Regions from separate parts of the Homo sapiens genome. Here region 1 is linked to region 2. Evidence: fine-mapped expression QTL. A gene starts in region 2. The other region holds a variant in brackets. All regions are shown on one strand. Distances are from middle to middle.

What was found. PIP is the estimated chance that this variant, and not a neighbour inherited with it, causes the effect.
Region 1: its variant is fine-mapped to the expression of KIF27 in whole blood (INTERVAL, PIP above 0.99).

Annotation. Positions count from the first base shown.
Region 1 is chr9:84,052,893-84,069,730 of GRCh38, reverse strand. LOC101927575 (a long non-coding RNA gene) reads right to left here and starts at 6,288. Exons shown (of 9, transcript NR_110995.1): 1 at 6,202-6,288; 2 at 2,304-2,436. The variant G/T (reference allele first, on the strand shown) is at 10,065.
Region 2 is chr9:83,916,298-83,933,135 of GRCh38, reverse strand. It overlaps KIF27 (kinesin family member 27), which reads left to right and starts at 11,704. Exons shown (of 18, transcript NM_017576.4): 1 at 11,704-11,765. It overlaps LOC105376335 (serine/arginine repetitive matrix protein 1-like), which reads right to left and starts at 12,235. Exons shown (of 3, transcript XM_011519284.2): 1 at 11,875-12,235; 2 at 11,438-11,782; 3 at 8,251-8,470. The coding sequence starts at 12,235. The coding sequence ends at 8,334. RefSeq lists enhancers at 10,304-10,808, 11,423-12,172 and silencers at 11,542-11,691, 11,722-12,101.

The DNA.
Region 1 (16,838 bases), 140 kb before region 2:
TGTGATCCGCCCGCCTTGGCTGGGATTACAGGCATGAGCCACCGCGCCTGGCGAAATAATACAGATTCTAAACAAACTTTCCCAGAAAATAAAAGAGAAGGGAACACTTCCCAACTTATTTTATCAGGCCAGCATTACTCTGATACTAAGTCCAGACAAAGATATTACAAGAAAATAAAATGATATGCCTTATGAATATTTTTGCAAAAACACTCAATAAAATATTAGCAAATTTAATCCAACAAGATATAAAAAAGAATAACATACTTGTTCAACATGCAAACATCAATCAATGTAACCCATCATTATGACATTCTAAAGAAAACCACATGATCCTATCAATGTATGCAAAAATATCACTTGGCAAAATTCAATATTCATTCGTGATTTTAAAAACTCTCAGCAAACCGAAATAGAGTGGAACTTCCTTAACCTAATAAAAGGTATTGTCAGTGGGCTAAATTGTGTTACCCCAAAATTTATGTAATGCCCTAATCCCCAGTACCTCAGAATGTGACTGTGTTTGGAGACAGAACCTTTAAAGAGGTAACTAAATCAAAATGAGGCCGTTAGGGTGGACCCTAATCCAATCTGACTGTCGTCTCTATGAGAAGAGGAAATTTGGACAAACAGAGAAGCACCAGGGATAAGCCCGCACAGAGGAAAGACCATATAAGGATATAGCGAGAAGGAGGCCGTCCACAAGCCAGGAAGAGAAGCTCCAAAGAAAATAAACCTGCCTACACCTGGTTCTTGGACTTCTAGGCTCCAGAAATGTGAGAAACAAACTTCTGTTATTTAAGCCACTCAGTTGATGGTACTTTGTTATGGAAACCTTAGCAAACTAATACAAGTACCTACAAAATATCTACAGCTAACATTATATTTAGGGATGAAAGGCTGAATGATTTTTCTCCCAAGATCAGGAATAAAGCAAGAATGTCTGCTGTCATTGCTCTAGTGCTTACGAAGAGGAGAGTTCAGGTGATTTATCAAGGTAGCCCATTCCAGAGATGTTATCTCCTCAGGTCAATACCCCCCAAGACCAACTACACACACACACACACACAAACACACACACATATACACATACACCTGTTATCTGGATGTCTTAGTTAAAACTAATTTTCACCCACAATATCAAAATAGTTGCCTCAATTCACTTTAAGTGTCCAGAAGCAGCTTGGGCATAATGAGGAAAACGGACAGGGAATCAAATTAGCAGCAGGATTATGAGGTCTGCATAAAAGAAAACTTAAAAAGGAAAGAAGAATTTCAGGGCACTCATATATGAAAATTACAGCCTGCACATCCCTGCAGTGTTATAAAGGGTCAGAGTGCATTTGATGGAGCTTTCTAACCATTATGTTCTCTGGTCATAATATAATATCTGTATTCTAATTAAAAAGGAGAAAAGGATGATTATTTAAAAAGCATAAAGCTTCTTAGAAACCTCAGTTTCTGGCATTTATTTGAAGGTTTCTACTCTCCCCACATATAATGTATCTGAGCAATTTAGAACTATATCTAACAGGCTCCACTTCACATCTACTCTTGCAAGAAAACGGTTTCATGCAAAATGTGAAAATTGCAGCCGGAGCCATTATGTAAGCTACTTAACCTATAGTAGGGGAGGTCTACATGCTATATGTTGCTCTGGATTGTCATGGAAAAAAAAGGTTCAAAAGAAAATAAGGATTATGTTCTGAGGCTGTTTTTCCCTGAGGCTCTTTAAACAATGCCTCTATCTGTTCCCCATTTTCCAATTGTCTTTTCCAGAGATGTGGCAATAATTTAGTTGTATTATGTGCTGTCACTTCTGCATTAATAAACACCAGGACCTGCTGAGTAATTACAGAATAACCTCATAATAAAATGCAGTGAAGAGCTCTAATTAAATGTTAATGTTGCTTAAAACTATCCTACTTTAAAATGAAAATTTTCCATCCATGTATCCTAATGAGTTATCAGAATGCATTACTCCCAAATAAAATGTACAAACGAGAAGGTAAACATAAAATATTACCACCAGTAGGCATGTGTGTGGAAACATTTATAATCAAAATTAATATACTACATTAAAATTACTGAAATATAAATGCATACCAAAATGCTGTAACAACAATGGGGGAAGATTTTTATGAAAGCTCATGCTTCACTTTGAAAGGGAAAAATGCCAAATTATTCTTCAGTCACGTAGTAGGCAATAGAGGTTAAAGCTACTTCTGAACATGGGACTAACACAAGTTAAACTAAGAACATCTACAACTTCTATAAAATAATAGAGCTAAAAGAAAACTCACTGTCTAATTGAAGAAACAAGGACTTCCATTTACTTTATTCTTTAAAATCTGCCAAGAAGGGGTTCCCCTCCCATATTATGTTGCTCTGCTTCTTCACCCACACATCATCCTTCTGGGCATTTAGTGTGCTGACCTAGGTAGACATGGTGAAAATCTATTACTCATAGGTATCTATATAAACCCATTACTCTTTTTGTTTTTTGTTTTTTTTTTTTTTGAGATGGAGTCTCACTCTGTCACCCAGGCTGGAGTGCAGTGGCACAATCTTGGTTCACTGCAACCTCCGCCTCCCATGTTCCAGCGATTCTCCTGCCTCAACCTCCCAAGTAGCTGGGATTACAGACGCCCACCACCACACCCAGCTAATTTTTTATCGTTTTGGTAGAGATGGGGTTTCACCACATTGGCCAGGCTGGTCTCAAACTCCTGACCCCAAGTGATCCACCCACCTCGGCCTCCCAAAGTGCTAGGATTACAGGCGTGAGCCACTGTGCCCCGCCCAACCCATTTCAATTTTCATATCACAGGAAGAAAGTCACAATCATTCCTCCTTCCTTTACATTGCCGGAATAAACAAGTCAATCCATTTAGTCTTTGGAAAAGACCTATCCCCCAACTCTTCTGCCATTATCTGCTGAAATCTGCTATACATTCATCTCACATTTCTGTCAAACCACTTATACTGCTACTTCTCATAGGCCTAATTAATATTCTTTCATGTAATCAGTCTTAAAATACAATCACAAACCTAGTATAGTATTACCTAAAGAATTCTGCAATATGTATTCCTGTTTTGTACTTCCTGTTAGCTTACTCTTTTTCTCCAAGATGAAAAACTAAGAAAAGTTTTATCATTGACAAATTTGAAATCTTTGTTTCCATTACCAGGCTCTTGCGTTATTAGGGATATGTGCCCACTTCAGTGACCTGAGTCCTGGATATCTCCCACACTTGACCTTCCAAGAAGTGGAATCCCTCACACCCACTTATAATACAAGCTGTTGATGCTGCTATTGATAAAGATATTTGTTTACTGCTGACTGTGATGAGATATGTTGGGACCTTTTCTTCCCAGTTTACACCAAATACATAGAAGAGGTGACTTTTCCTAGCGTTCCTCAGATTCTCTTTGGCCATGGCTATGTCTCTTTGGAACAAGACTAGATGCTCTAAGAACTTCTGCTGAACAGCTTGTACAGCCCGAGAGGAGAAGGAGGGAAGGCAAGGAGACATCCAGGGCCTGGCTGAGACATCTCATGTTCTCTCCCATCCCTGGGAACTTCCCATCTGTGTGCAGGGGATTGTCTGTGTCATGAAGAACCAACATGGCACTGACCACCAATCAGTCACCAGACACCACAAAGAGTTGTCGGCAAATGGCGAGACCTCCCCTGCTGCCCCTTGGAGAACAGGAAATAGAGTCACTCGGCAGTTTTCAGGAGGATAATACTTCAGGACACAAGCTTTGGAGTCAGACAGACTTGAGTTTGCATCTCAGTTCTGATGCTTGCTAGTTGTGCCCCCTTGAGCAGTTTGCTTAATCTCTCTGAGCCTCCATTTCATCATCTATGCATTGAGAATAATGCTCACCTCACAAGATTATTATGAGAAATAGGTGAGCAATATATGACAAGCACTTGGCATGCTGAGTGATTCAAGTATTTAATTAGTGGAAGCTGCTATTATTACTACTACCGCCTCTATTAATGGTGTCTTTCCCCGCAAGTAGCAACACCTCCTGGCTTCTATAGTAACACTGATGTTCTTACCTTGAAAAACTTTCAAGTCATCTTGGCCTCTCCCTCAGTCCCCACATCCAAAGTCACCAGGTCTTATCAATCCATCCTCTCCTTTGCATCTCCATTGCCACTCCTCTAGTTTATAGCTTCACTAACTCTCACCTTGACCTTCACTCAGTAAATGTCTATTAAAGCACCTACTGTGTGCTGGGCATGGTGTAAAATACACACATGTAAAATATCTCAAAATATGTATAATCTGGTGGTATGGCAAGGAAATACAGACATTTAGACAGGTAACCAGAATGCAAGGCCAAATGAAACAGCATGGAATATTTAGAAAGGTTTCACATACATATGATTCAACAACAACAAAAAAGATGTACAGGAAGGTTTCACAGAGGCATTGCCCCTTGAGGGGAAACTTGAACAATTAATAAAAAGAAGAAAAAAAAGGCATTACAGTCTGAGAAAACAGCATGAGCAAACACAAGACCTCAAGAATTATGTCACGTGGAGAAAATGCTGAGTTATACAGTGGGACCAGAGTGGGTGGGGAGGACAGAGCCACAGCTGAAGTCGGAAGCAGTCAGTCAGGGGAGTGGAGTGCTTCCAATTCCCCTTCAATGTGGATTCCTCCTGCCTCAAGGTGGATTCCCCTTAAAAGTCTGCCTCCTCCCCTAAAGGCTGTACAGCTATAGACAAAGTACTTACCTTCCCTGAGACTCATTTGTAAAATGCAGACAACAAAATACCTACTTCATGCTGTTCTTGAGGGGATTAAATGAAATAATGTAGGTAAAGAACTTTACACAATGCCTAGACTATAGTAGGCACTTCACAGATGGTAGTTACTGTTTTCCTAGGAAGCTGTCATGGACTGAATGTTTGTGTTTCACAAAAATGTGTATGTCAAAGCACTAACCCACAGTCTGGCTCTATTTGGAGATGGGGCCTCTATGGAACTAAGGTTAAATGAGGTCATAGGGTGTGACCCTGGAGTCTTGATTCAAAAGGATTAGCCTTTATAGAAAGAAACACCAGAGAGCTTGCTCTCTCTCTCCATGAGCACCACCAAGTAAAGGCCACATAAGCACACAGTAAGAAGGTGGCCATTTGCAAGCCATCTGCCCTCACCAGAAACTGAACTGGCCAGAACCTTGAACTTCTAGCCTCCATAACTGTGAGGAAATAAATTTCTGTTGTTTAAGCCCCAAGTCTATGGTATTTTATTATGGCAGCTCAAGCTGACTAGTACGGAGGCCTTGAATGGCATTTTAAGGGGTTTATTCTTTATTTTGTGGACAATGGAGATGCCTTAAACATTTCTGAGAAGGCAAGAATTAACATTTATATCTGACTATCTGAGAGTTGAAGAGTAATGGGGATGTCCTCTTTACTGACCTCCTGCACCCTGCCCCTGCCTCTTCCCATCCATTCATGACAACCAGTCTATGATTAATATCTCCAATATGGCTCAGATGAGCTGCTCAAAATGTTGGCCTATAGAATACAGCCTGGATCCCTTAGTTTGGCATTCAAGCTGGGAAGATCAGACCCTGGCTTTTGCCACATTTGTGTCTTTGCTCAAACTGTTCCTTCCACCAATAATATTATTTCCTACTGTTTTCAGACAGAATCCAATTTATCCTTTAAGACCAATGCCCATGCCACTTGTCTTATGATGTCTCCTCTCCACTGAACCCCTACCGTTTATGCCTCTAGCATGTCACGGTGGTCAACCTCTCTATTCTAAATAATGTTGTTTATAGCTCCTCTAGTAGACTGTAATGACCTGAGGTCAATTTTTGTGGCTTTCACATTACATGGCACAGAAAAGAATTTGAAGGAGGTATGAGGGAAAATCTATAAAGCAGGAGAGAAAAACATTAGGCTTACATAGGAGAGAGACAGTCTGGAAGAGAAGAGGGTTTTTGAGAGCAAAAACTCTTATTGAAAGGAGAATTAGAGTCACTTGATGTGGGTGTGCATTGTGAAACAGATGAATTTCCCTGCACCCCAATTCCCTACAGAGTCTCCATCTCCATTATACTCCCATACACGTGAATTCTCTGAAATTCCCATGAGATACTAGATGGGAAAGATGGTTATTGGGTGACAATAATCATAATCATAGTTAACATCTGTTGAAGACATACCTGGTGCCTGGCGCTGGGCTACAGTACAGGTTTTCAGTATTCCATATGTTATGTTCTTTTTTAGTCCTGAAATGCCTGTCTTTCTGTTGATATAATGTGGCCATTTAAGTGTTCTTTTCATCTGAAATTTTATTCAGAGATTTATCCAGAGGATTATATGCTGCATTAAAACAATGAGTTCAGTCAGGGAGCATTCATTTAGAAAGTTTCTAACCCTATCCCTCCTCTGTTTAAGACTAATATTAAGACCCTTACTTAAGACTCAGGCACTTACATCACTGTAGTTTTAATTCCAACTTTCTGGCTTACTAATGAGGAAAAACAACTTTTATTTTGATTTTGAAAACATCTATTAAATCCCTATAAAATATCTTGGTTTTTTTAAAAATACATCTGAGATAATCTTTCCCTACACATATTTTAAAAACCTTAAAACCTTTTCCTTTTTTTAAAATGTTTTATTTCCATACGTTTTGGGGGGAATGGGTGATGTTTGGTTACATAAGTTCTTTGCTGGTGATTTGTGAGATTCTGGTGCACTTATCTCCAGAGCAGTATACACTGAACCCACTTTGTAGTCTTTTATCCCTCACTCCCTTTCCACCCTTTCCCCTGAGTCACCAAAGTCCATTGTATCATTCTTATGCCTTTGCATCCTCATAGCTTAGTTCCCACTTATGAGTGAGAACATACGATGGACAAACAACTTTTTTATGTCATTAGTCATTTCTATATTTGCACCCCAGTCTATCAGAGTCACTGGTGAAAACTGGCAAAGGGTGAAGGAGAACTCAGAGAGGAAGAGGCTAGGTGCCCAGGATTAATCCCAGCCCTTGGCATGGAGCCTGCCTGCCTCCTTTTTCCCAGGACCCAGTTCTGTCTCCTTCCCTCCCCTCTATTCCTCCAAGGCCAGCCCCAACCTTTCCTAAGATTTTTATTTTATCTAAAAACTTCCCAATAATTCTACTTGGAGATACTTAAGCCAGGAGGACAAAGGATACACAGTCACAAGCCTGGCGTACTCGCAAGTGAAACAACACCCAGAGACAAAATTTATTTTTAAATAAAATATGGAGATTTCTGGTTACATGAAATAAATATACAAATTACCAGTATTCTCAATGGGCTTCGATGTGTGCAGTTAGTAGCCATGCCCTTTGCTGAGAACTCTACTTGCATTATCTATGTCAGTCCTCATGGAGGGGGGTGCTGAATAATTACTATCTATCTCCTTTAGCAATGGGAAGGGTAGGAAGTTACCCTGGGTAGATGGCGCAGGACACTGAGAGTCCTGTTTTAATTTTGACACAAGGAAAAGAGATTTTGCTATATGCCCTCAGCTAGCTTAGGTAGGAAAGGGAGAATCTCCCTTCTTATTTTAATCAATATGTGACTGATTTAAAGGAGCCTCAGAGGCCTTTAGCACTAACAAGGCCCAATCTCTAGGAATTTAAGAATGACAGTGAGTCTGGCACTGTGAGGAGCCTGATGCATGATACCACCGGGGCGCTGAAAGAACACGGCTTATATCACATCTCACACCCTGCCTAGAGAAAGCCACTTTTATTCTAGGCCAAATTCCAAAGTGAAACTGGCAATGGATTTGTTATAATGTTAAAGTTAAATAAAATTGTTCCCAGTAATACAATCACTTTCCTGCTTTTGAAATCTTTATTGTTTGTTATTACAAAAGCAAATAAAACACACAGAGACTGTTGCTGTGCACACCTGCAGTTCTTATTGCAAGCTCCCCCAACCCTCCCTGAGGGCTTTCTCTAGCAGCAGAAATTAGCTCACTACTGTGCAGGGCAGGCAGGTGCTGCCAGGCTGTAAGCCAATCCCTGTTCCCCCCATAACGAATGGGAGATGGAGGGTAAATTGCCCCTCGGGTGGGACAACCTGAGGTGTGTTCTACACAGTTTTCAGAGGCCCCCAGTGGAATGCAGATCCAGTTGCCCCCAGCAGTGACCTGCTCTGAAGTAGTTTCCTTCCTTTCCCTCTCCCTTCACCTCTGTCATCAGGGCTTCCTGGGATCACCTCCCAAATAAACTACTTCTGCATAAATCACTATATACATCTGAGAAAGCCCAACTCAAGACAATTGCTGTAGTTTGAATATATATACATACATATATATATATGTATGTATATATATATAGTTTGTTTGTTTGTTTGTTTGTTTTGGAGATGAAATCTCACTCTGTCGCCCAGGCTGGAGTGCAGTGGTGCGATCTCGGCTTACTGCAACCTCCACCTCCTGGGTTCAAGCTATTCTCCTCCCTCAGCCTCCCGAGTAGCTGGGACTACAGGCATGTGCCACCCCACCAGGCTAGTTTTTTTTATTTTTAGCAGAGAAGGGGTTTCACCCTATTGGCCAGGCTGGTCTCAACTCCTGACCTTGTGATCCGCCCAACTCGGCCTCCCAAAGTGCTGGGATTACAGGCATGAGCCACCACACCTGGCCCAGTAGTTTGAATATTTATCCCCTCCAAAAGTCATGTTGAAACTTAATCCCCAATGTGGCAGTATTGAGATAGGGCCTTTAAGAGGTGATTGGATCATAAGGGCTCTGCCCTCATAAGTGGATTAATCCATTCATGGATGAATGGGTTAAAGGGTCAATGAATATATGGGTTACCATGGGAGTGGAATGGGTTGCTTTATAAGAAGAGGAAGAGGGACCTGAGCTCACACATTCACACGCTCATCCCTCTTGCTGTGTGATACCCTGCCCTGCCTCAGTTCAGAGTCCCCATCAGCAAGAAGTTTCTTACCAGATGTGGCCCCTCGCCCTGGGACTTCATAGCCTCCGTAACTGGAAGAAATAAATTTCTTTTCTTTATAAATTACCCAGTCCGTTTTCCATTGTTATAAGCAACATAACAATGCCCATATATGAGTTTGCTGAGGCTGCAATACCAGAGTACCACAGACTGGGTGGCTTAAACAACAGAAATTTATTTTCTCACAATTCCAGAGGCTGGAAGTCCAAGATCAAAGTGGCAGCAGGGTTATTTCTTCTGAGGCCTCACTCCTTGGCTTATAGATGGCCATCTTCTCCCCTTGTGTTTACACAGCCTTTCCTCTATTGTGTCTTTGTCCTCATCTACTCCTCTTATAAGGACACCAGTCATATTGCATTAGGGTCCACCTATATGACCTTATTTTACCTTAATTATGTGTAAAGACTCTTTCTCCAAATACAATCACATTCTGAGGTACTGGGATTAGAACTTCAGCATAGGAATTTGGGTGGGAACACAATGCTGCCCCTAAGAGCCCAGTATAATCAAAACAAAGTTATATCAAATATTTATTGAAAACACATGCTTGTGTTGACTTCACCCAGCCAGTGAATGAGTCAAGCCTGGTAGGCTGTGGTGGGATGTTTGCTCTGAATCTGCATAGGCTTGTCTTCCAGAGACACATTTATATTCTGATACTATAAAGCAACCATCAGCATTAAGGGAATTGCCCAGTTAGGAATTTAGCATAGATTAATCCAGGCTCCTTCATTCTAACTATTTCTACTGCCCTCTAGGGTGACCAACTCATCTTGGTTTGTCTGGGACTGTCCCGATTTTAGCAATGAAAGTCCTGCATTTCAGTACTTTTTCCGGGGCACAGCAGGATGGTTGATTATCCTTAGTCTCTCATATTTGAGAAATGCGGGGATTTGGGGGAATCAGGAGTAGATAGAAAGAGAGAGAACAGATGACCATTTTGTTTGTCAGGCTGGGTTGGATTGGATGACTTCTGAAATTGTTTCCCGTTTCATTAGTATGAAGAAACAAAGATGTTATCAACTCCTTGGATATTTACCTCTGAAATTCAGTAGTTGGTGAGAAGGTGAGACCAAACAT[G/T]ATAAAAATAATAACTCTAGCAATATTCCAAGAGAAGCTGAAAGGAAGGTGAGAGAGCAGATAACTCCTTGGGAAAAGGTGTCCTCACACTTCCAGACAGAAGAGATCCTCTCTTCTTCTCCTGCCTCACTCACACACTCATGCTCCTCTCTGATTTCCGGTTATACTGGAAATCATCTGTTAGACTTGTCTGCATGCTTCTTTTTCCTACTAGATACCAAGTTCCTTGAGAGACTGGGTCTTATTCATCATTGAAGACCCTGGCACCAAACAGGTATAAATAATTACCTTTTTTCTTCGTATATTTTATTCACAATACATTGTGCTCCCAAAACCAGCATTACCTCCAGTGGGTATCAGGAGTGCCTGGAAAAGAACATTATTGAATGGGTGATCTCTTCCATAATAATCAAACTAATCCTATTACTGATAGAATTACTGATTAACAGTGCCCTTTCACCCCTTGAAGCTTAGTATTTGTGATAGATCTACACTGTGTCTTTCCATTTGATTCATGCAAGATCTACATTATTAGATTGTAGCCATTTCTCAGCCAAGAGTAATTCTGTTGCTTCAAGCTATACATCTATTCTAATAGATAGAGGTGTTTTTTGTTTTTGTTTTTTACCCAATCTTGTCTGAGGTTTTCCATTGTTTTTGCTAGATAAGTCCAACATTTATTAAGTACCCACTGAATATTTTGCATGAATACCATTGATTTATTCAAAAAAATTGTGTCGGATATTTTAGGACTAATTACAGTGGCAGTGTGGTATTATACAGAATCTCTGCCTTCAAGCAATGTCTGATCTATTGAAGGAAATGAGACATATATACATGAAAAAATAACTGATTGTGGATCTTATGTAAAGCAGTAAATTTAATGTGCCAAATGAGTAACATAGAAAATAAATTCCCTGAATTATAATTATTTTGTTTGTGTTGCCAATTATACTGTGAGTATATTGAGAATATATTATTTTATAACCTCAATACCTGCTTTTAAGAAGACATCTGATTTTTAACAAGTTTCCAAGGTGATTCTTCTTTTTTTTTTTAGACAGAGTCTCCCTTTGTCACCCAGCCTGGAGTGCAGCAGTTTGATCTTGGCTCACTGCAACCTCCGCCTCCCAGTCTCAAGCAATCCACCCCCTCAGCAGCCTCCTGAGTAGCTAGGACTACAGGTGCATGCCACCGTGCCCGGCTAATTTTTGTATTTTTTGTAGAGACAGGGTTCACCATGTTGCCCAAGCTGGTCTCAAAGTCCTGAGCTAAAACAATCCACCCACCTCAGCCTTCCAAAGTGTTGGGATTACAGGCGTGAGCCACCACACCCAGCCTTCCCATGTGATTCTAATTATGCTGAAGTTTAAGAATCACTACTGTGGACAATAGGAAGAGATTAAAGAATTTGGGCAATAACATGGCATGATAGAGATATTTGATGAAGATTCATCTGGTGGAGTGCAAGATAGAGCAGAGCATGGAGAAACTGAAGATAGAGGAGACAGAAAGAAAGCTGACTGCATTTTTCCATGCATGAGATAATAACACCGGAACATTAGGAATAGTATGAAGGAAAGATCGGGTAGGCATGGAAAACATTGAGAAGGAGGAATCGCTGAACTTGGTGACTGAGTGTTAAAGAAGAAGAGGGGGAATGAAAAATAATTTCAACATCTTTAACTTTAAAAACTGGAATAATAATAACAGTAACAGCTAACATATATTAATCACTGTGGCAGTCACTGTGGCCTGGCTGCCTCTACAACCATGCCCAACTCTCTTCTCTTATTACAGAAGCTGGAAAACTAGATCGTCACTTTCTTAGCCTCCTTCAAAGTCACGGGAGGACATGTGACTTAGTCCTGGCAATAAGATGTAGGGAGAAATCTTTTGGAAGGCTCCTGGGAACTGGGAAAGCTTTTGCTTTCCTGATGCAAGAGACAGTCGATGCCACCCCTGCCTTTTCCCCTTCATTTTGCCTTGATCCCTGGAGCTGCAGCAGCCTGGTGACCTGTGATAGCCATGAAGATGAAAAGCTGACATGGGAAAGATGGCAGAAGGGAAAGAGAAAAAGACATGCAGTCTTTGGTGGCACCACTGAACTGCTGCAGCAAGGCTGGAACTTCCCACCTCCAGAATTCTACTTATATAAGATAATTATGAGCCAGATGTGGTGGCTCATGCCTGTAATCCCAGCACTTTGGGAGGCCAAGGCAGGTGGATCACCTAAGGTCAGGAGTTTGAGACGAGCCTGACCAATATGGTGAAACCCCATCTCTACTATGTTGTGGCATGAGCCTGTAGTCCCAGCTACTCGGGAAGGCTGAGACAGAAGAATTGCTTGAACTAGGGAGACGGAGGTTGCAGTGAGCCAAGATTGCACCACTGCACTCCAGCCTGGGTGACAGAGGGAGACTCCGTCTCAAAAAAAAAAAAAAAAAAAAAGATAATTAAATGTATTTATTGCCTAAGCTATTATTAATTGGTGTTCTGTTACTTGCAGCCTAATACAACCAAACTGATACAAGCACTGACTACATTCCAGGCATTGGTCTAAACATTTAATTCAATGCTTACAACAACTTGATGAGGGATGTGTTATTATTACAAAGAGGAGGTAAGGAGGCACCAGGAAGTCAAATAACTTATCCAAGTCCACATACCTAGTAAATAGCACAGCAGGGATTTAAAACCCAGCAGTCAGCCTCCAAAGCCCTCAATTGTAATCACTATATATACAGTTTCTCAATAATCGTGATAGCACAGATAGAAAATAAGGAGTTGGGAACAGGTGTTAATGGCTGGAAATCTGAGTAGAAATATTCATCAAGGAGTTAGAAATGCCAAGTCTGAGGCAAAAGAATATAAAGGATATTATTTAGAATAAGGAGCCATCTGCATTAAAATAAGAGTTTATTTAGAGCCTACAGCGGTTCCAAATCCTCCTTATCTACAAGGTGAGATGAATAGAACCATAAATATATAGCATGGCCTGAATACTCTTTTGTTGACAAAATGCCTTTGACTATCCAAAAACTGGCTCCCTTGTTACTGCAAACGTTTAAATTCTGGCCTGTGAATACAGTAACATCATTTAAAGGAATGCTGTGAAGTGGGGTCCAAGGCTGCTCTCCACTCCTGGCTGCCAGGGAAGATTTTTGGCTACGCATAGCAATTCTCCATTGTAAGCCAATGCCAAACATAGCGTCAATCTTCCAGCCAGCTGCCAGTTTGCAAGGCCATGGTGACCCAGCAAAGCTACCCAGAATCTGAAGTGGGCTTCCAGGGCTGTTGACCATTCTATCACCTTCAACATCAGGGCAGCCTGTCCTCAGAAATGAGAACGGATGCTGTTTACCTTTATTCCACTGGTATTCCGAGTAAAAAGTGAGGACCAAAAAGCGAGAGGGAGGGGGAAACAGATAACATTAATTCCAAATAATAAAAATAATGGTAATAAGCTTGCCGTTTTTGAGCACTGACCCTGTGCCAGGCTCTGTGTGGAGTGAATGCCTTTCACGGATTATCTCACTTGAAGCAAATTAATCTTGTGTCTGCTTCTATTTTAACAGACTCACAAGGTCTGTCGCCCAGGCTGGAGTACAGTGGCGCGATCTGGGCTCACTGCAAGCTCCGCCTCCCGGGTTCACGCCATTCTCCTGCCTCAGCCTCCAGAGTAGCTGGGACTTACAGGCGCCCGCCACCACGCCCGGCTAATTTTTTTGTATTTTTTTGGTAGAGACGGGTTTTCGCCATATTAGCCAGGATGGTCTCGATCTCCTGACCTCGTGATCCGCCCGCCTCAGCCTCCCAAAGTGCTGGGATTACAGGCGTGAGCCACCATGCCCGGCCCAGACTCACAAGGTTTCTAAAGAAAATCGTGGTTAATCACTGAAGATACTGTGGCATTTGCCAATTATTGTTGTCGTTGTTGGCTTGCTTGGGGTTTTGTTTGTTTTGTCTTCTTTATTCAAAGGCCTAACAAAGGTCAGCTGGAATATTCCACTGATGCCCATGGACACTGCAATAATTTTCAAACAAGGCTGACAACCAGAGCAATAGATCAGTCCTGTGGAAAACAGATTGGCCTACCTGGGAGAACTGAGAGGGCAATATATGAAAAAGAAACATCTATGAACTTCCTATCACCAACTTTGTCAGGTTGGTATTTACATAGTTCTAGAAATGGGGCCAGTGTAATCCTTATTAATGCAATACAAGGATATAAATGCTCAGTGGCATTGGAAAAGAACTTAAAAAGGGAAAGATGTCTACACTACAGTCCTGGTATTGGTTAGAATGTTTTGTACTTTCCTTGGTGATGAGCTGCAATTAACCCAGTTCTGATCTGGACGTGCTGATCTTCATCACAAATCACCGATGACACTGGAACAATTTCACTGTCATTAAATGCTTAAATGATGTTACAATCACCTAAACAACTAAAGTACACAAATTAAAGCTTTAATTTATAATCCTTTTGCAAAAGCACTCCTGTTAGAATTTAATTTAAGATTTCTGTAGACTCACACTCTAAGTCCAATCATTACAATTAATCCAATCTCTCTAATCAAGGATGCATGTCTTTACTTACTCTCCCTAAAAGTAATGAAGATTATAAATGAATGAATTTCATTACTGTTCATGATTTTGGTCAATTGTTCTCAGTTTCTCAGTCTCAGGTCATTTCTCTCTGGGAGGCTATTTGAAAGATAAACAACTCTATATTTAGATACTACCAACGACAATAACAACAACAACAAAAGACAAAAAATACACATCAGGCTTATTGCAGAGATAAGAATGAGACAAGCCGAGTCATCATTGAAGTGGTCAGCAGTCCAAGGCCACTCATCTTTCATAATCAGCAGCTGTGAAGGGCTTTGCCAAAGGGCAAGGGGTAAGAATCGCTCACGGCCTCAGAGAAGTGGTTCCCTTGCATTAGTGGCTAAATCCAGACAGACCAGAATAAAACCCGCCGGTGAATCTGATCCAGTATTTAAAAGTGCACAAGCAGGAAAGTACTTAGCAAGTCCCTTCATAATTCTGCAAAAGTTTATTCTTTGTCCCAAAAGAAAATGAGGAAGTGTATTCCCCCCTCCTAGACTTTAAACTCAGGATAAAGAGATACTCCTAGCGGAGTATCTGGTGCATGATGGGAGATTAGTAAATGTTTGTTGAAACTAAAATTAACTAGCATGTCCTATCATTGAATCTGCATAACAGCTTGACAGAGTAGGTATTGTTGTCCTATTCTGTAATAAAATTGAGGAATTAAGAAAGATCAGTTTGGTAACTTGTTAACAAGGAATGAAGCCAGGACTCAAACTCAGGTCTTTCTGGCTCCAAAGTTAGTGTTCTTTTCATTATGTCATGCTGCTGCAAAACACCTGCTTTGCTAACTTAAGACCCTTTCTGTTTCTTTTCTAATTATACAATGCACAACACTCTTCTATAAATGTAAAGCCCCCTTCTATTCCAATCTCCTTATTCTCTGCAGATGATCTCATTGTTCCTTTATTCAAAATGTGGTGGTGCTTCTTCTACATTAACATCACTTCCTGTCTCTTCCCTATCTTTGCTTCCTTCACTGCTGTCCCAGATTAAAAAGTGACCTTCCTCTATTTCAAGGTGAAAGCCCCTCTTTATGGCTCTTAATCTCCCCAGTCTGACCACATTTTAATACTTCTTCATTCTTTCTTCTGTGACTTCTTCCTGCCAGTGTATAAATGGTTTGATGTGCTTCCCATCTTAAAATACACACACACACACACACACACATACACACACACACACACACACACACACCCCACCTCCACTCACCAGGCTATCCCTTGAACTACATTCCTGTCCTTCCCTCCTTCCCTTCACTACCAAGTTTCTTTTTCACAGCCTTCATCTTCTAACCATCTCATCATGTACAGAAAATACTCTCTTGATAACAATTGAAAAATCAGATCTACAGATTTTCTTAGTTTTCATTCTCCTCAGATTCTCTGCAGCAAGCCACTACCACCAATTCTCATTTCTTCACGTGATCTTCTCCCATGATTTGTATAAAGCTGTTCACTCTCAGATCTGCCTCTCATTCTCTGACTCCTCTTTCCTCTTCTGACCCCAGAGGTAATTGATGCCTTTGGTTATACCCAGAGCCCATTTCTTCCCTCCACATTCTCTCCTTTGGGTATTTTACTCAGTCTTTTATAACAATCTTCAGTTTTGACTAGTGCTCCAGTCCACATTTCCAACTCCTGTTAGATATTTCCATCTGCCTGTTTCCTACTGACACCCCAAACTCACTATGCTCAAAATATAGTCATAATCTTTTTTCATACATATTTATTACATTGTAAATACTATTATCTCAGTCATTATGGAAAAAAATTACCATGTTAAGGTTGCAGTGTTCAATGCTACAAAGGCCAAATATTAATCATAGAGGCCTAATAGTCAAATAGAACTCATTTTTTCTTTTGTTTAAAGATTATTTTCCAAAATTAATGCATTTTTCCAAAAGTAATGCATATGCTAAAAAGAATAATTCAAAAAATACAAAATAGTATATTACATACGTAAAAAGTAGGTTGTCTTCATCCCTGAACACCTTAAATCGAATTCCCTTCCTCAGAAGCAGTATTATTGGTTTTATCAGTGTTATCAGTTTGCTATAGAAAATGTGCCAGAAATATTCCGTGTATTTTCAAGTATATATGTATAGATGCCTGTCTTAGTTCATTTTCTGTTGCTTATAACAGAATACCTAAACCT
Region 2 (16,838 bases):
AAAGCATGAGCCATTGTGCCCAGCCAAGGCTCAATAACTTTGACGAAGCCTGAGTCAAAGTGAGAAGAAACAAATAGGTCACAATGGTATTTAGAGAGAAGCCTAGAAATACTTTGAGAACCAAAAATAGTATTTTGAAAGCAAGTAAAAAAATATAAAAAAAACTATGAGTTCATAGTTACCCTCCTTCTACCACACACGTGCTCCAAAAAAAGAAACCGTATTGTTTGATTTTGAAGGTTGGTAGGGACCAATTTGTAATTCTGAAAATTGGTAAATAAAAAGGAAAAAAGCATTTATTCTGTTATTCCTGTACTAACTGCATTTCAGGATAATCTGATAGAGGAAAAGCTCTTCTTTATAGAACAATACCAGCTAATAAATGCAAAAAGGAATATTAGAACATTACCATTGTGCAATCCCTAACGAAATAATAGATATGGGAAATGATCCTCAATGGCTTCTAGGTAAAATGTTAATGAGGAACTTTTTTTTTTTTTTTTTTTTTCCCAGACAGAGTCTCCTTCTGTTGCCTAGGCTGGAAGTGCAGTGTGGTGCCATCTCGGCTCACTGCAACCTCCGCCTCCCAGGTTTAAGCAATTCTCTTGTCTCAGTCTCCTGAGTAGCTGGGACTACAGACATGTGCCACCACACCTGGCTAATTTTTGTATTTTTAGTAGAGATGGGGTTTCACCATGTTGGCCAGGCTGGTTTCGAACTCCTGACCTCAAGTGATCCACCCGCCTTGGCCTCCCAAGGTGCTGGGATTACAGGCATGAGCCACCATGCCCAGCCGATGAGGAACTTTTTAATGGATGGATTATACTGAAAAATATCTGTACTCATCTATAATCTTAACATCACCAAAAGCAGGATATGCAGACATTACATGCCTCCTGGTGTGTTGCAACAGGAAGTACATATGCCCATCTATGAATTATTCTTGCCAGAAGAATTGAACCTGAATCTAATCAAGAATCTAGATCTAACTTACTGGTTAACAGGAAATGTAGGAAACAGAGGAACAAGTTAAATGAAAATACAGTATATGATCAGCCAATTCTAAAGTGTGAGAAATCCTATAGGACAAATAGCAGCTTGCTTGCTTGCTTGCTTTCTTTCTTTCTTTCTTTCTTTCTTTCTTTCTTTCTTTCTTTCTTTCTTTCCTTTCTTTCTTTCTTTCTTTCTTTCTTTCTTTCTTTCTTTCTCTCCTTCTTTCTCTTCTTTCTTTCTTTCCTTCTCTCTCTGTCTGTCTCTTTCTTCTTTTAAGACTGGGTCTCGCTCTGTCACCCAGGCTGGAATACAGTGGCATGGTCACAGTTCACTGTGGCCTCAACCTTCTGGGCTCAATTGATCCTCTCACCCTCAGCCTCCCAAGTAGCTAGGACTACAGGCACATGCTACCACAATCAGCCAGTTTGTAAATAGTTTGTAAAGACAGGGTCTCCCCTTGTTGCCCAGGCTTGTCTCAAACTCCTGGCCTCAAGCCATCTTCCCGCGTCAGCCTCCCAAAGTGCTGGGATTACAGGCAAGAGCCACCACACCCGGCCTCTTCCACTTCTTAAAAGGACACTAATTCCATCATGGGGTTCAACCCTCATGACCTCATCTAAATCTAATTACCTCCTAAAGGCCCTACCTGTAAATACTATCACATTGGGATTTAGAGTTTCAACATGAATTTTGGGGAACACAAGCATTCAATCCATAGCAATAATCCCCAAAACTGAAAGTTTCTCAAAGAGATATTTATGCATACATGTTCACAGCAGCATAATTAACAATAGCCAAAAGGTGGAAGCAACCCAAGGGACCAACAGTGGATGAATGGATAAACAATTTGTGATACATACATACAATGGAATATTAATTCAGCCTCAAAAAGAAAGGAAATTCTGATATATGTAACAACATGGATGAAACTTGAGGACATCATACTATGTGAAATAGTCACAAAAGGACTAATACTCTATGATTCCACTTCTATAACCTAGAATAGTCAAATCCATAGAGACAGAAAGTAGCATGGTGGCTGCCAGGGGTCAGAGAAAGAAGGAAATAGTGAGTTATTGTTTAACGGGTGTAGAGTTTCAGTTCTCCAAGATGAAATGAGTTCTGGATATTGGCTGTACAACAATGTGAAGGTACTTAACCATTTTATGTATGTATGTATGCATGTATGTATGTATGTATTTTTGAGATGGAATCTTGCTCTGTCGCCCAGGCCGGAGTGCGGTGGCATGATCTCGGCTCACTGCAACCTCCGTCTCCCAGGTTCAAGTGATTCTCCTGCCTTCAGCCTCCTGAGTAGCTGGGATTACAGACATGCGCCACCATGTCCAGCTAATTTTGTATTTTTAGTAGAGATGGGGTTTCGCCATTTTGGCCACATAGTCTTGAACTCCTGACCTCAGGTGATCCACCCGCCTCGGCCTCCCAAAGTGCTGGGATTACAGTGTGAGCCACCACACCCAGCCAGTACTTAACAATTTTAAAGTGTACAGCTCAGTAGTGTTAAGATAGTCAATTTTATGTTATGTACATTTTACCACAATTTTTTTAAAGGTGAGGGTAATTGTTATTGATTAAAAGAGAATTAAGGTACATATCAATCAAATGCCATATATGGTCCATGTTTGGATCCTGATTGCAGCCAATCAGCTGTAACACAAACAACAAAACTTGAGATTCATTATATAGAATACTGCAGCTCTGCTCAGCTCAGCCTCTGGGGAGGTGTGTTGACTTTGTCATCTGACAGATGGAAGCTTCAGTCTTGCCTTTGTCACTTAACCATGTAGGCTTGAGCAAGTTACTTGTTTTCTGTTTTTAAATTTTTTTATTTCCATAAACATTCATTGACTCTCTGGGATGTGCTTATTATCTATTATGTATTAGACATTGACTGTGCTCAACAATAGAGACATAAGGCCGGGCGCAGTGGCTCACGCCTGTAATACCAGCACTTTGGGAGGCCGAGGTGGGCAGATCACGAGGTCAGGAGATCGAGACCATCCTGGCTAACACGGTGAAACCCCATCTCTACTAAAAATACAAAAACATTAGCTGGGCGTGGTGGTGGGTGCCTGTAGTCCCAGCTACTTGGGAGGCTGAGGCAGGAGAATGGCGTGAACCCGGGAGGCGGAGCTTGCAGCGAGCTGAGATTGTGCCACTGCGCTCCAGCCTGGGTGACACAGCAAGACTCCGTCTCAAACAAACAAACAAACAAACAAACAATAGAGATATAAAGATAAATAACAGGTTGGGCACAGTGAATCACACCTCTAATCCCAGCACTCTGGGAGGCCAAGGTGGGAAGGAAGGCTTGAGACCAGGAGTTCAATACCAGCCCAGGCAACATAGAGTGACCCTATCTCTACAAAAAATTCAATTAGACCGGGCGCAGTGGCTCACGCCTGCAATCCCAGAACTTTGGAAGGCCGAGGCAGGTGTATCCTGAGGTCAGGAGTTTGAGACCAGCCTGGCCAACATGCCAAAACCCCATCTCTACTAAAAATACTGGGCATGGTGGCGGGGGCCTATAACCCCAGCTACTCAGGAGGCTGAGGCAGGAGAATCACTTGAACCCAGGAGGTGGAGGTTGCAGTGAGCTGAGATCATGCCATTGCATTCCAGCCTGGGTGACAAGAGTGAAACTCTGTCTCAAAAAAACAAAAACAAACAAACAAAAAACAAATACAAAAAAAAATAAAATATTAGCCAGGCATGGTGGTGTGCACCTGTATCCTAGCTACTCTGGAGGCTGAAGTGGGAGGACCATTTGAGTCCAGGAGTTCAAGGTTACAATGACCTGTGATCAAACCACTACACTCCAGCCTGGACAACAGAGTAAGACCTTGTCTTTTAAAAAAGTCATAACGTTTAACTCCACCATCCAGAGATGATGGTGGTTATCATTTTAGTGAATTTTGTTGAAAATTTTTACATCTTATGATTTTTTATTTTAGTCTTAAAAATTATTTTATTTTACAGACAGGGTCTTGCTCTGTCACTCAGGCTGGAGTACAGTGGCTCAATCATAGCTCACAGCAGCCTCCCACGCTTGGGCTCAAGCAATTCTTCTGCCTTAGCCTCCTAGGTAGCTGGCACTACAGGTGCAAGCCACTATGCCCAACTAATTGTTTTTTTTTTTTTTTTTTTCTTTCTTTCTTTCTCTTTCTTTCTTTCTTTCTTTCTTTCTTTCTTTCTTTCTTTCTTTCTTTCTTTTCTTTCTTTCTTTCTTTCTTTCTTTCTTTCTTTCTTCTTTTTCTTTTTTTTTTTTTTTTTTTTGAGAAGGGATTCACACTGTGTTGCCCAGGCTGGTCTTGAACTCCTGTCCTCAACTGATCCTACTGCCTCGGCCTCCCAAAGTGCTGGGATTGCAGAAATGACCCACTACACCTTTGGCTTTCTTCTAATCTTCTGCCTTCTAGGTCCACATGGTCAACCTATGGTTTTGTCCAGCACCAGACTGGACAAATGTGTAAGTTAGCAATGCAGACATCATTGAAGATTTTGCAGGGGAGACAGAGGAAGGGGTTTGAATTGCACACTTCACAGCAGGAACATAAAGGCCACCACTGGGTGGGCGCGGTGTTTCACGCCTGGAATCCCAGCACTTTGGGAGGCCGAGGCAGGCAGATCATGAGGTCAGGAGTTCGAGACTAGCCTGACCAACATGGTGATACCCCGTCTCTATTAAAAATACAAAAATTAGCCAGGAGTGGAGGCGCTTGCCTGTAATCCCAGCTACTCAGGAGGCTGAGGTGGCAGAATCGCTTGAAACCGGGAGGCAGAGGTTGCAGTGAGCTGAGATTGTGCCATTGCACTCCAGCCTGGGTGACAGAGCGAGACTCTGTCTCAGTCAATCAATCAATAAATGCCTCCGTTAGCCATTCCCAGTGTCCCTGGGATTCCCTTATCAGTTATTCTCTGCCTCCTCTCTGCTTCAGCTTCTCCCAACACCACCCCCTTCCCCCATCTTCCTCATTCCTTCTCAAGAGCAGTCAAATAATTCTTCCCCTTGTCTCATATGAGCAACACCACCCTCCTCTCTGAAGCTTGGGTACCAACCAAATCAGGCTTCCAAGGCTTATCTTCCACCTAGGGGCAGGCTAGCAAAGCATCTTCTCAGCAAAACTTTGTCTGTCCACATATAGATTTCCCATTCCAGCTGTTAAGGAATAGTATTCTCCATGCCATCACAGGAAGGCTTTAGGCAAAGGACAGACAGTGAGATTCATGTCCTAGATAGATCAGTGTAGAAGGTGTGGAGGGTGGATTTGTAAGTGCAAGACTGGAGACAGGGGGACTAGTTGGTAGGCTGTTGCAGTAGTCTAGGTGAGTGATTGTGAAATCTTGAACTAGAGTAGAAAGGATTTGAAATATTCAGATGTAAAACAAGCAGAATTTGGTGATTAGAATAGGGAATGGGGTGGAGGCGGGGAGGAAATAAAGGTAGCCTCCAATGAATCCTGCCTCCTAGTATTCATACTTTCATGCAACCTGTCTCCTGAATGTGGGATAGACCCAGTGACTTGCTTCTAATGAACAGAATGTGGCAAAGGTGATGGGATATCCTGTCTACAATCAAGTTATAAGTGACTCTGACTTCTCTTTTGCTGATTTTCTTTCCATGGCTCATCTTACATGCTCAATGTGATGCAGAGGGCCACCTGTTCAAGGAACTAAGGGGAAGGAACTGAGGGCAGCCTCTGGCTAATAGCCAGCAGGAATGTGTCCCTCAGTCCAACAACCCTCAAGAACTACCACCAAACACTATAGAAGCTTGGAAACAGATTCTGCCAGTTGACCCTGAAATGTTCGTGGCCCTGACTGACACCTTGATTGCAACCTTGTGACAGCCCTGAAGCAGAGGATCTAGCTAACCCATGCTCAGATTTCTGACCTATAGAAGCTACGACATAAGAATTTTTTTTTTTTTTTTTGAGATGGAGTCCTGCTCTGTTGCCAGGCTGGAGTGCAGTGGTGCAAACTTGGCTCACTGCAACCTCCGCCTCCGGGGTTCAAGCAATTATCTGCCTCAGCCTCCCAAGTAGCTGGGATTACAGGCATCTGCCACCACACCCAGCTAATTTTTGTATTTGTAGTAGAGACGGGGTTTCACCATGTTGGCCAGGATGGTCTTGAACTCCTGACCTTGTGATCCGCCCACCTCGGCCTCCCAAAGTGCTGAGATTACAGGTATGAGCCACCGAGCCCGGCCAAGAAATTTGTTTTAAGCCACTAAGATCTGAAGAAATAGTTCAGCAATAGATAAATAAGGTAATAGGTGTATAATAGTGTTTAGTAGATGAAAATGTCATTTTTCATCCATTTTCAGCCAGATTGTTACCTTAGACCAGAATATTTCAAATTGCAGGCTGCAATCCATTAGTAGGTCATGAAATCAATTTAAAGGGTTGTAATCAACATTAAGAAAAATTGGGCTGGGTATGGTTGCTCATGCCTGTAATCCCAGCATTTTGGGAGGCCAGGGCAGCAGGATCACTTGAGGCTAGGAGTTCAAGACCAGCCTGGGCAACACAGCAAGAATCCATCTCTACAAAAAAATAAAAAATTAGCTGAGCATGGTGGCCGGTGCCTGTATTCCCAGATACTTGGGAGGCTGAGGTGGGAGGATTGCTTGAGCCTGGAAGGTTGAGGCTGCAGTGAGTCATGATTGCACCACTGTACTCAGCCAGGGTGACAGAGTGAGACCTTGTCTCAAAAAAAAAAAAAAAATTGAAGTAGAATAGGGCCAGGCATGGTGGCTCACTCCTGTAATTCCAGCACTTTGGGAGGCTGAGATGGGAGGATCACTTGAGGCCAGGAGTTCGAGACCAGTCTGGTCAACATAGCAAGATCCTGTCTCTAAAAAAAAGAAAAGTAGAATAGAATAAAATAAAATACATAGAACATTGCACTTAGTAAAGGTAAGTATTGTTTCCCAAAACTTTTGTTTTCATTCATTTATTTATTATTTATTTATTTATTTATTTATTTATTTATTGAGATGGAGTCTCGCTCTGTCGCCAGGCTGGGGTACAGTGGTGCAATCTCGGCTCACTGCAACCTCTGCCTCCAGGATTCAAGTGATTCTCCTGCCTCAGCCTCCCGAGTAGCTGGGATTACAGGCTCGTGCCACCACACCCAGCTAATTTTTGTATTTTTATTTTTATTATTTTATTTATTTTTTTTTGAGACGGACTCTCGCTCTGTTTCCCAGGCTGGAGTGCAGTGGCATGATTTTGGCTCACTGCAACCTCTGCCTCCCGGTTTCAAGTGATTCTTCTGCCTCAGCCTCCCGAGTAGCTGGGACTACAGGCACGCACCACCACACCCGGCTAATTTTTGTATTTTTAGTAGAGAGGGGTTTCACCATGTTGGCCAGGCTGGTCTCGAACTCCTGACCTCAAGTGATCCACCTGCCTTGGCCTCCCAAAGTGCTGGGATTACAGGCATGAGCCACTGTGCCTGGCCTTGTTTTCATTTATACACATACCTGTGTATTGAGTCATGATGTCAAGGGAATTTCTGATAGTGGCTCAGTATCAATCAAATTCGAAAGCCAGTGTCCTGGGCTTGCTTTTCAGATTGGGGTGATGGATTATTTCCTAGTCTTCCAAGGTTCCCCTCATGATTGGTGGAGATTGTGGTTGCCCAATTTGACCATAGGGCCAAGCAAATCCACCTGGCACCAGTTGACAGGACCCAAGCAGTATGTTTCCTTAGGAAAGCTAACATTCTCTGCACTAAGTTAAGGAGCCAAAGGCAAAATGATGGCACAGAAACCACCCCTCCCCCTTTTTTTTTCTCAGACGGAGTCTCACTCTGTCACCCAGGCTGGAGTGCAATGGCATGGTCTCGGGTCACTGCAATCTCCGCCTCCTGGGTTCAAGCGATTCTCCCACCTCAGCCTCCTGAGTAGCTGGGACTACAGGGCCATGCCACCATGCCCGGCTAATTTTTGTATTTTTAGCAGAGACGGGGTTTCACTATGTTGGCCAGGCTGGTCTCGAACTCCTGACCTCATGATCCGCCCGCCTCAGCCTCCCAAAGTGCTGGGATTACAGGCGTGCACCACCGCCCACCCCCATTTTTAAAGAAACCCCATTTTTAAAGTATAAAGCTTCTTTTCTCCCCGCCAGAGAAATTAAGGGAATTCATCAAACATTATAGCAACATTAAAAGAATTTAAAGTGGGAGAAGAGGTATGATCTGTGGTTTCCTTAATACTTCCTTTAATACTTCCTTTCTTTCCTGGATCCAGCTTTTCTCAAAATATGGGTGAGGGAAGATGATTTAGGCGAAAAGGGCACATATTTCTTTATTTAATTTGGTCTAGCTGTAATCTTCTGTTTGTTACTGCTTTTCTGGTAAAGTGGACTGGGCATGGATGTTTTTCTCTGTAGGACAAGCAGCCCAAAGCTGGTCTCCCATGGGACATATGCAGAGTTCTTCAGTGGACCTGAAAGATACAGTTCCCTTAAGGAGAAGACCTAGTTCCCTTAAGAAGATCCAGCACTGGCTCAATTACTTCTGCTAATCCCAAGCCCAGCTCCTCCCACTGCCTCTTACTGATGGGGACTTATCTGCAGGAGACAGTCCTCAAGACAATCTTCATGGGGCTCAAGCTTGGGTACCCTCCAAAGGATCCCCTGGACCATGAGCAAATCACAGCTTCTCCCCCTGCTAAACTGCAGGAACACAGACTGCTCTACTACAGCAACATCTCAGTTGCTTCGCTCCATTCTTGAGAAGAAGATCAGCTCACTTCTTCCCCTAGTTGCTCCCACCAGAAGGCCAGGTTTCCTCTTCTAGCACATCACACAGGGTTTGCCCGTCACTCTTAGAGCCTCCTTTGACTTAGGTGGGAGGCCTCTTACTCTCCAACCCACAAGGCCCAAGACCCCTTGACTCCACTGCCGAGTCTTTCTTACAGATACTTAAAAAAGAGATAGGATTGGAATTTGAATGGAATTAGCTTAGTCCTGCTATAAATCCTAGGGAGGAGGGGTTGGCAATGACTGGCATTCACTTCACAGTGTGGGGAACTTAAGTAACTCCTTTTCTCTAACTCTGGACTCAAGACATCAATTTGGGGACAATGGAAAATGCCCCATTCTAATGCTGTTGGGCATTTGCTGACCTCCTCTCTGCAATTGTGTGGCCTCTTGAGAACTTCTGTTGAGACTTCTGGGTATTCCTAGACTTAAATTGTTACGTACTATTAATTATTGAAGTTTTGTCAGCAGACCAGTCTGACTTACCAATTCACAGTCATGATGTGAGTTTTTGTTTGTTTTCAAAGAGTTCTAAAAATGCAACTTGGCCCTATAGTCAAATTGGGCAACCACAATCTCCACCAATCATGAGGGGAACCTTGGAAGACTAGGAAATAATCCATCACCCCAATCTGAAAAGCAAGCCCAGGACACTGGCTTTCGCATTTGATTGATACTGAGCCACTATCAGACATTCCCTTGACATCATGACTCAATACACAGGTATGTGTATAAATGAAATCTTAGAATTTTAAAAATTATGTATTATTTATTATTTTTTTGAGGTAGAGTCTCATTCTGTCACCCAGGCTGCAATGCCATGGTGCAACAACAGCTCACTGCAGCCTTGACCTCCCAGGCTCAAACCATTCTCTCACCTCCACCTCCAGAGTAACTGGAACTGCAGGCATACTCAGCCACACCTGGCTAAGTTTTGATTTTTTGTAGGGATGGGGGGTCTCATTATGTTGCCCAGGCTGGTCTCAAACTCCTGGGCTCAAGTGACCCTCCCAGTTCAGCCTCCCAAAGTGCTGAGATTACAGGTGTGAGCCACTGTGCCCAGACTGAATTTTTAAAATTTTAAATAATTCAGTTAAAAGAAAAAAAAATAAAAACTATAAATAAAATAGTCAGCTTTTTTCCCCCACCTTCATTCCTATATTTCATGAGAGAAGGAAGGGTTTTTGAAGATGCTTAGATTGTGCTACTAAAAACAGGAGGCATTAAAGCATTTAAAACTAAATTGGTAAAGTTAAATATTACCATACGACCCAGCAATTCCACTCTTACGTCCATACCTAAAAGACCTGAAAACAGGCTCGGCGCGGTGGCTCACGCCTATAATCCCAGCACTTTGGGAGGCCAAGGTGGGCGGATCACCTGAGGTCGGGAGTTCGAGCCCAGCCTGACCAACATGGTGAAACCCCGTCTCTACTAAAAATACAGAAAACTTAGCCAGGCGTGGTGGTGGCACATGCCTGTAATCCCAGCTACTCCAGAGGCTGAGGCAGGAGAATTGCTTGAACCCATGAGGCGGAGCTTGCAGTGAGTTGAGATAGCGCCACTGCACTCCAGCCTGGGCAACAGAGCGAGACTCCATCTCAAAAAAAAAAAAGGAACTGAAAACAGACATCCAAATATTGTATGTGAATGTCCATAGCAGCATGGAAACAGCCCAAATGTCCACCACCAGCTGAAGAATGGATAAACAAAATGTGGTATGTCTATATCCATACAATGGAATTTTTTCAGCCCTAAAAAGTCCTGATAGGGCCGGGCAGGGTGGCTCATGCCTGTAATCCCAGCTACTCCGGAGGCTGAGGCAGGAGAATCGCTTGAACCCATGAGGTGGAGGTTGCGTTGAGCCTAGATGGCGCCATTGCATTCCAGCCTGGGCAATAAGAGCGAAACTCCATCTAAAGGGCCGGGCGTGGTGGCTCACGCCTGTAATCCCAGCACTTTGGAAGGCCGAGGCGGGCAGATCACGAGGTCAGGAGATCAAGACCATCCTGGCTAACACAGTGAAACAAACCCCGTCTCTACTAAAAATACAAAAAATTAGCCGGGCGTGGTGGCACGCGCCTGTAATCCCAGCTACTCGGGAGGCTAAGGCAGGAGAATCGCTTGAACCCGGGAGGTGGAGGTTGCAGAGAGCCGAGATCACGCCACTGCACTCCAGCTTGGGCGACAGAGCGCGACTCGGTCTCAAAAAAAAGAAAAGAAAAAAAAGAAAAGAAGTCCTGATAGATGTTACAACATGACTGCATCTTGAAAACATTAAGCAAAAGAAGCTAGACACAAAAGGTCATATACTGAATGATTCCATCAATAAAGAAATGCCCAGAATAGGTAAAGCTATCACAGAGTCAGAAAGTAGATTAGTGGCTGGCTGGGGTTGTGGGGAGAGGGGAACCAGAAGGAATGACTGCTAACTGGTTTGGGGATTTTCTTTTGGGGTTATGAAAATGTTTCTGAACTATATACAGAGGTGATGGTTGCACAACACTGTGAATGCATTAAACGCCACTGAATTGTGAGTTTTAAGATGGTTTATGTTAGGCAAGTTTTACTCAATAAAAATAAAAATAAACTGAATTGGTAGCTAAGATATTGAAACACGGTGTGGAATCGTTCTCACTCATTTCACGAACCCGTAGAAAGATGCTTGCGCTCAGGCCTCACAGACCGGTCCCAGCGCGTTGGTGGGACACAACTCGGATTTGCAGGCAAGCCCAGGGGCCGGCCCTTTGCGGACTTCCTGGGGACGCAGGACTCCTGCGCGGCGGGCTTGGAGGCGTGGCCAGGATGGGGGCGGGGCCAGGACGCGGCATCCAGGAGAGGACGCGGCGGGAGGCGGGCTTCGCCGGTTGCCAGGAGAACTCGCGACAACAAAAGACGCGGACGGCGGCTGCGCGGTGTGGCAGAGCGAAGCTGAGGAGTCCAGCGCTCGCCGACAGGGGCCTGGGCTGTCCCGAGCCGGTCAGTGCTCGGCGGGCCTGGCGGGCGGTGCGGGGAAGTGGGGCGCCCTCCCTTCGCGGTGCCCGCCCTCCAGCCCGCCGCGCCCGCCGCTCCCGCGCCCCCAGCCGGCCGTTGGGACTAGTAGGCTCCGGCTTGGGGTCGGGGCCGCCGCGGGTGGGTAGCGGAGGGTGGGCGGTTGGGGCGCCAGCTAGGCCTATGGGGGCGTCCGAGGGGTCTGGGGTCGGGGCTGGGAGCCGGCGAGCGACTAGAGGCAGAGCGCCCCTTCCGGAGGAAGTTGGGTCAGCCCTGAGGAGCGGGTCCCGGGGAACACCGATCGACCGGAACGCGGGACCCGGCCTTTCAGAGCGCACCCTGTGTTCGTCTCGTGTCGCTGCACGGCGTGAGGTGCGACGCGAGGGCCACCACCACCGAGCGCTTTGTTTTATCGCAGGCGTCTTTTTCCCACCGTAGAGGTTGAAACTTGGGCGCATTTCCCACCGTAGAGGTTGAAACTTGGGCGCATTTCCCACCGTAGAGGTTGAAACTTGGGCGCATTTCCTACCGTAGAGGTTGAACCTTGGGCACATTCAAGCCCGAGAGCTCCCTCCCTCGGAGGCAGGTGACTATAAAGAGCAAAGCGCCCAGATTCTTTCTTTGAAACACCTTTTAAGTAACACCTTTTAAGTCTCCAGTGTTGAAAATCCTTGTTGTTTGCCCTTCTTTACTCTTTTGTCGTCTTTACGCATTTGGGGCCTTTTCTGAGCTCCGTATGCGATTTACTGTCCATCTACTGGCAAGTTTTTTATGAAAATAATTAACAAACCACACATTTAAGACAACCACTGCTTTCTGGGAAATCAAGGGTACGGGATGGCAACGGTTTTTGGAGACACTCATTCCTGACCAGTGACATGACATGAGGGATTCAATATTTCTCTTGCCTTTGCTCAGATTTCAAAAACCCGTTGAGTATACTTAAATACGACCAATCAGATTTTGCTTTTTTTTAAATCATTTATTGGCAACATAATACGTATGTTTCTGATGACTATAATTGATCAGAATCTGAAGTATAAGTGCTATGGATTGTGTAAAAACTTTATTTCTTGTATATTGATGTTTTACAAGCCCTATGTTTGTGGACCATTACTATTGTTTGTTTGTTTTGTTTTGAGACAGGGTCTCGCTCTGTTACTCAGGCTGGAGTGCAGTGGCACACTGCAGCCTCAACCTCCCGGGCTCAAGCGATCCTCCAATCTCAGCCTCCCAAGTAGCTGGGACTACAGGTGCGTCACCACAGCCTGGCACATTCTTGTATTTTTAGTAGAGACAGGGTTTCACCATGTTGCCCAGGCTGGTCTGGAACTCGTGGGCTGAAGCGATCCACCTGCCTTGGCCTCCCAAAGTGCTGGGATTACAGGTGTGAACCACTGTGCCCGGCCCCATTATTATTTTTTTTAATGCTTAGAATAAGTTTCAGTTGCCTTTATAACCAAATTCTTTATAGATATTACCATTAAAAACCCCAAGAAATGAGGCTGGGCATCGTGGCTCACATTTGTTTTGTTTTGTTTTCAGGAGGGATCCTCTCGCTTCAGCCTTCTGAGTAGCTGGGATTACAGGCGCACGCCACCATGCCTGCCTAATTTTTGTATTTTTAGTAGAGACAGGGTTTCTCCATGTTGCCCAGGCTGGTCTCGAACTCCTGGGCTCAAGTGATCCACCCGCCCTGGCCTCCCAAAGTGCTGGGATTACAGATGTGAACCACCGTGCTGGGCCATGGTTTTTTTTTTTTCAAGGGTAGTGAATATTATCAATTCATTGTTGTTAGTGTTATTAATAAAATATTATTTCAGTCTAGTTGTCTGTGTTACTTAATGGTAATCTTCAAGACTCAGCAGCTTTTCCAAAGAACCTAACCTCACCTCAAATTCATTACTTTTCATCATCTGCACTCAAACATTGTCATAGATTACTTGTTAAATTTTGTATAAGCTTTATCCTTCCAAAACTGAACATTTGTATGTAAGTTTTTATGCGAACACAATGTTTTCATTTCTCTTGGGAGTGGAATTGCTGGATCATTTGATGGAGTGGAATTGCTGGGTCAAGAGATAACTGTATGTTTAACTTTTTGCAGAAATGTCAGTCTGTTTTCCAAAGTGGCTATACCATTTTACCTTCCCACAAATAGTGTATGAGGGTTCTAATTTCTTTATACCCTGCCAACACTTATGATCTGTCTTTTTTATTATAGCAGTGCTAGTGGATGTGGATTGGTATCTCATTGTGGTTGTTGTTTGTTTGTTTGTTTGTTTGAGACAGTCTTGGTGTATCGCCCAGGATGGAGTGCAGTGGTTCGATCTCAGCTCACTGCAACCTCTGCCTCCTGGGTTCAAGCGATTCTCCTGCCTCAGCTTCCCTAGTAGCTGGGATTATAGGCGCCCACCACCATGCCCGTCTAATTTTTGTATTTTTAGTAAGGACGGGGTTTCACCATGTTGTTCAGGCTGGTCTCGAACTCCTGACCTCAGGTGATCCTCCCACCTCGGCCTCCCAAAATGCTGGGATTACAGGTTTGAGCCACTGCGCCTGGCTAATTTTTGTATTTTAGGTAGCAATGGGGTTACACCATGTTGTCCAGGCTGGTCTTGAACTCCTGACCTCAGGTCATCCTCCCACCTCAGTCTCCTAAAATTCTGGGATTACAGGCATGAACCACTGTGCACCTGGCCTCTCATTGTGATTTTGATTGCATTTTCCTGATAGCTAATGATGGTGAGCATCTTTTCATGTGCTCATTATTCATTTGTATATCTTCTTTGAAGAACTGCCTTTTCGGATGCTTTGCCTATTTAAAATTTTTAAAAAACTTTTTGAGTTATAATATTTATATATTCTAGTTGCAAGTTCCTTGTTAGATATATGTCTTGCAAATATTTTCTCCCATTCAGTGAGTTGTCTTTTCACTTTCTTGGTAGTTTCCTTCGAGGCACAAAGTTTTTAATTTTGATGTCGTTTTTCCTTCCCTCCCTCCCTCCTCTCCCTCCCTGTCCTGCCCCCCCCCCATTTCTCTCGTTCTCTCTTTCTCTCTCTCTTTGAGACAAGTTCTTGCTCTGCTGTCCACATTATAGTGTTGTCCACGTTATAGTGCAGTGGTGCAGATACAGCTCACTGTAACCTCTGGCTGCTGGGTTCAAGCCAATCTCCCGCCTTAGCTTCCCAAGTAGCTGAGACCACAGGTGCGTACTACCATGCTGAGCTGATTGAAAAAAAAAATTTCTTTGTAGACATGGCGTCTCACTATATTGCCCAGGCTGGGTCTTACTTATTTTTTAATCTATACTTCATCTTTATTTTTTGCTTTTATTATTATTTTTGTTTGACAAAATCATTGTACATATTTATGGGGTACAGTGTGATTTTTCAGTACATGTATACAATGTATAATGTTCAAATTGGTATTTTTTATTTTATTGCTTTTGGTGTCATATCTGAGAAATTATTGCCAAATCCAAGGTCATAAAGAGTTACTCCTGTCTTTTAAGAGTTTTGTAGTTTTACTTCTTATGTTTAGGTCTATGGTCCATTTTTGGTTAACTTTTGTATATGATATGAGGTAGGGAGTCCAACTTCATTATTTTATCCATTGTCCCAGTGCCATTTGTTGAAAAGAGTATTCTTATACTTCAGTTGAATTGTCTTGGCATCTTTGTTGAAAATCACTTGCCCATGAATGTGAGGGTTTATTTCTGGATTCTCAATTCTATTCTGTTGATCTATATGTCTGTCTTTATGCCAGTACCACACTATCATGATTACTGTTGTTTGGTTTTGAAATTAGGAAAGTGTGAGTCCTCTTACTTTGTTCTTTTTCAATATTGTTTTGGTTATTCTCTGTCTCTTGAGTTTTTCTGTGATTTTAGGATCAGCTTGTCAATTTCTGCAACTAAGTCAGCTGACATTTTGATAGGTATTGCATTGAGTCTGTAGATAATTTGGGGAATACTGACATATTAATATATCTTTCAATTCATAAACATGAGATGTTTTTTCATTTACATCTTGTGCTTTCTTCTAACAGTATTTTATAGTTTTCAGACTATATGTTTTACACATCTTTTGTTAAATTTATTTCTAAGTATTTTATTCTTTTTGATGCTATTGTAAATGGAATTGTTTTTTACATTTATTTTTAAGAGTGTTCTGCCACAGGAAGGGGAACATCACACATTGGGGCTTGTTGTGGGGTGGGGGAAGGGGGGAGGGATAGCATTAGGAGATATACCTAATGTAAATGACAAGTTAATGGGTGCAGCACACCAACATGGCACATGTATACATATGTAACAAACCTGCACGTTGTGCACATGTACCCTAGAACTTAAAGTATAATAAAATATATATATTTAAAAAAAAAAGAGTGTTCTGTCGTGCGCGGTGGCTCACGCCTGTAATCCCAGCCCTTTGGGAGGCCAAGACAGGCGCATCACGAGGTCAGGAGATCGAGACCGTCCTGGCTAACACGGTGAAACCCCATGTCTACTAAAAATAGAAAAAATTAGCCAGGCATAGTGGCGGGTGCCTGTAGTCCCAGCTACTCTGGAGGCTGAGGCAGGAGAATGGTGTGAACCCGGGAGGTGGAGCTTGCAGTGAGCCCAGATCGCGCCACTGCACTCCAGCCTGAGCGACAGAGCGAGACTCCGTCTCAAAAAAAAAAAAAAAAAAAGTGTTCATTGTAAATGTAGTTACCAATTATTTGTTTATATATATTTTTAGCCAGGAAACTACAGCCATCAATTTAAATTTTAATGTATTAATTCTAGCAGAGATCTTCAGAAATAAGTACAACATAATATTTAGAAGTAGAAAAAGCAGTTTTTCTGTTAGTTTTGATTATTTTTGAATACAAATTTAGTTTTAAATTTATGTTGACTTATTGAAATTCTTAAAACTATTTTCATGGATTTATTTCTAATAATTGTGGCAAAGAGGAGATGCTATTTTTCAATGCATAGCTATAAAATCTAGTACTAATGTTTGTTTTTAACACATGTACAGGCTGGGCACGGTGGCTCACGCCTGTAATCCTGG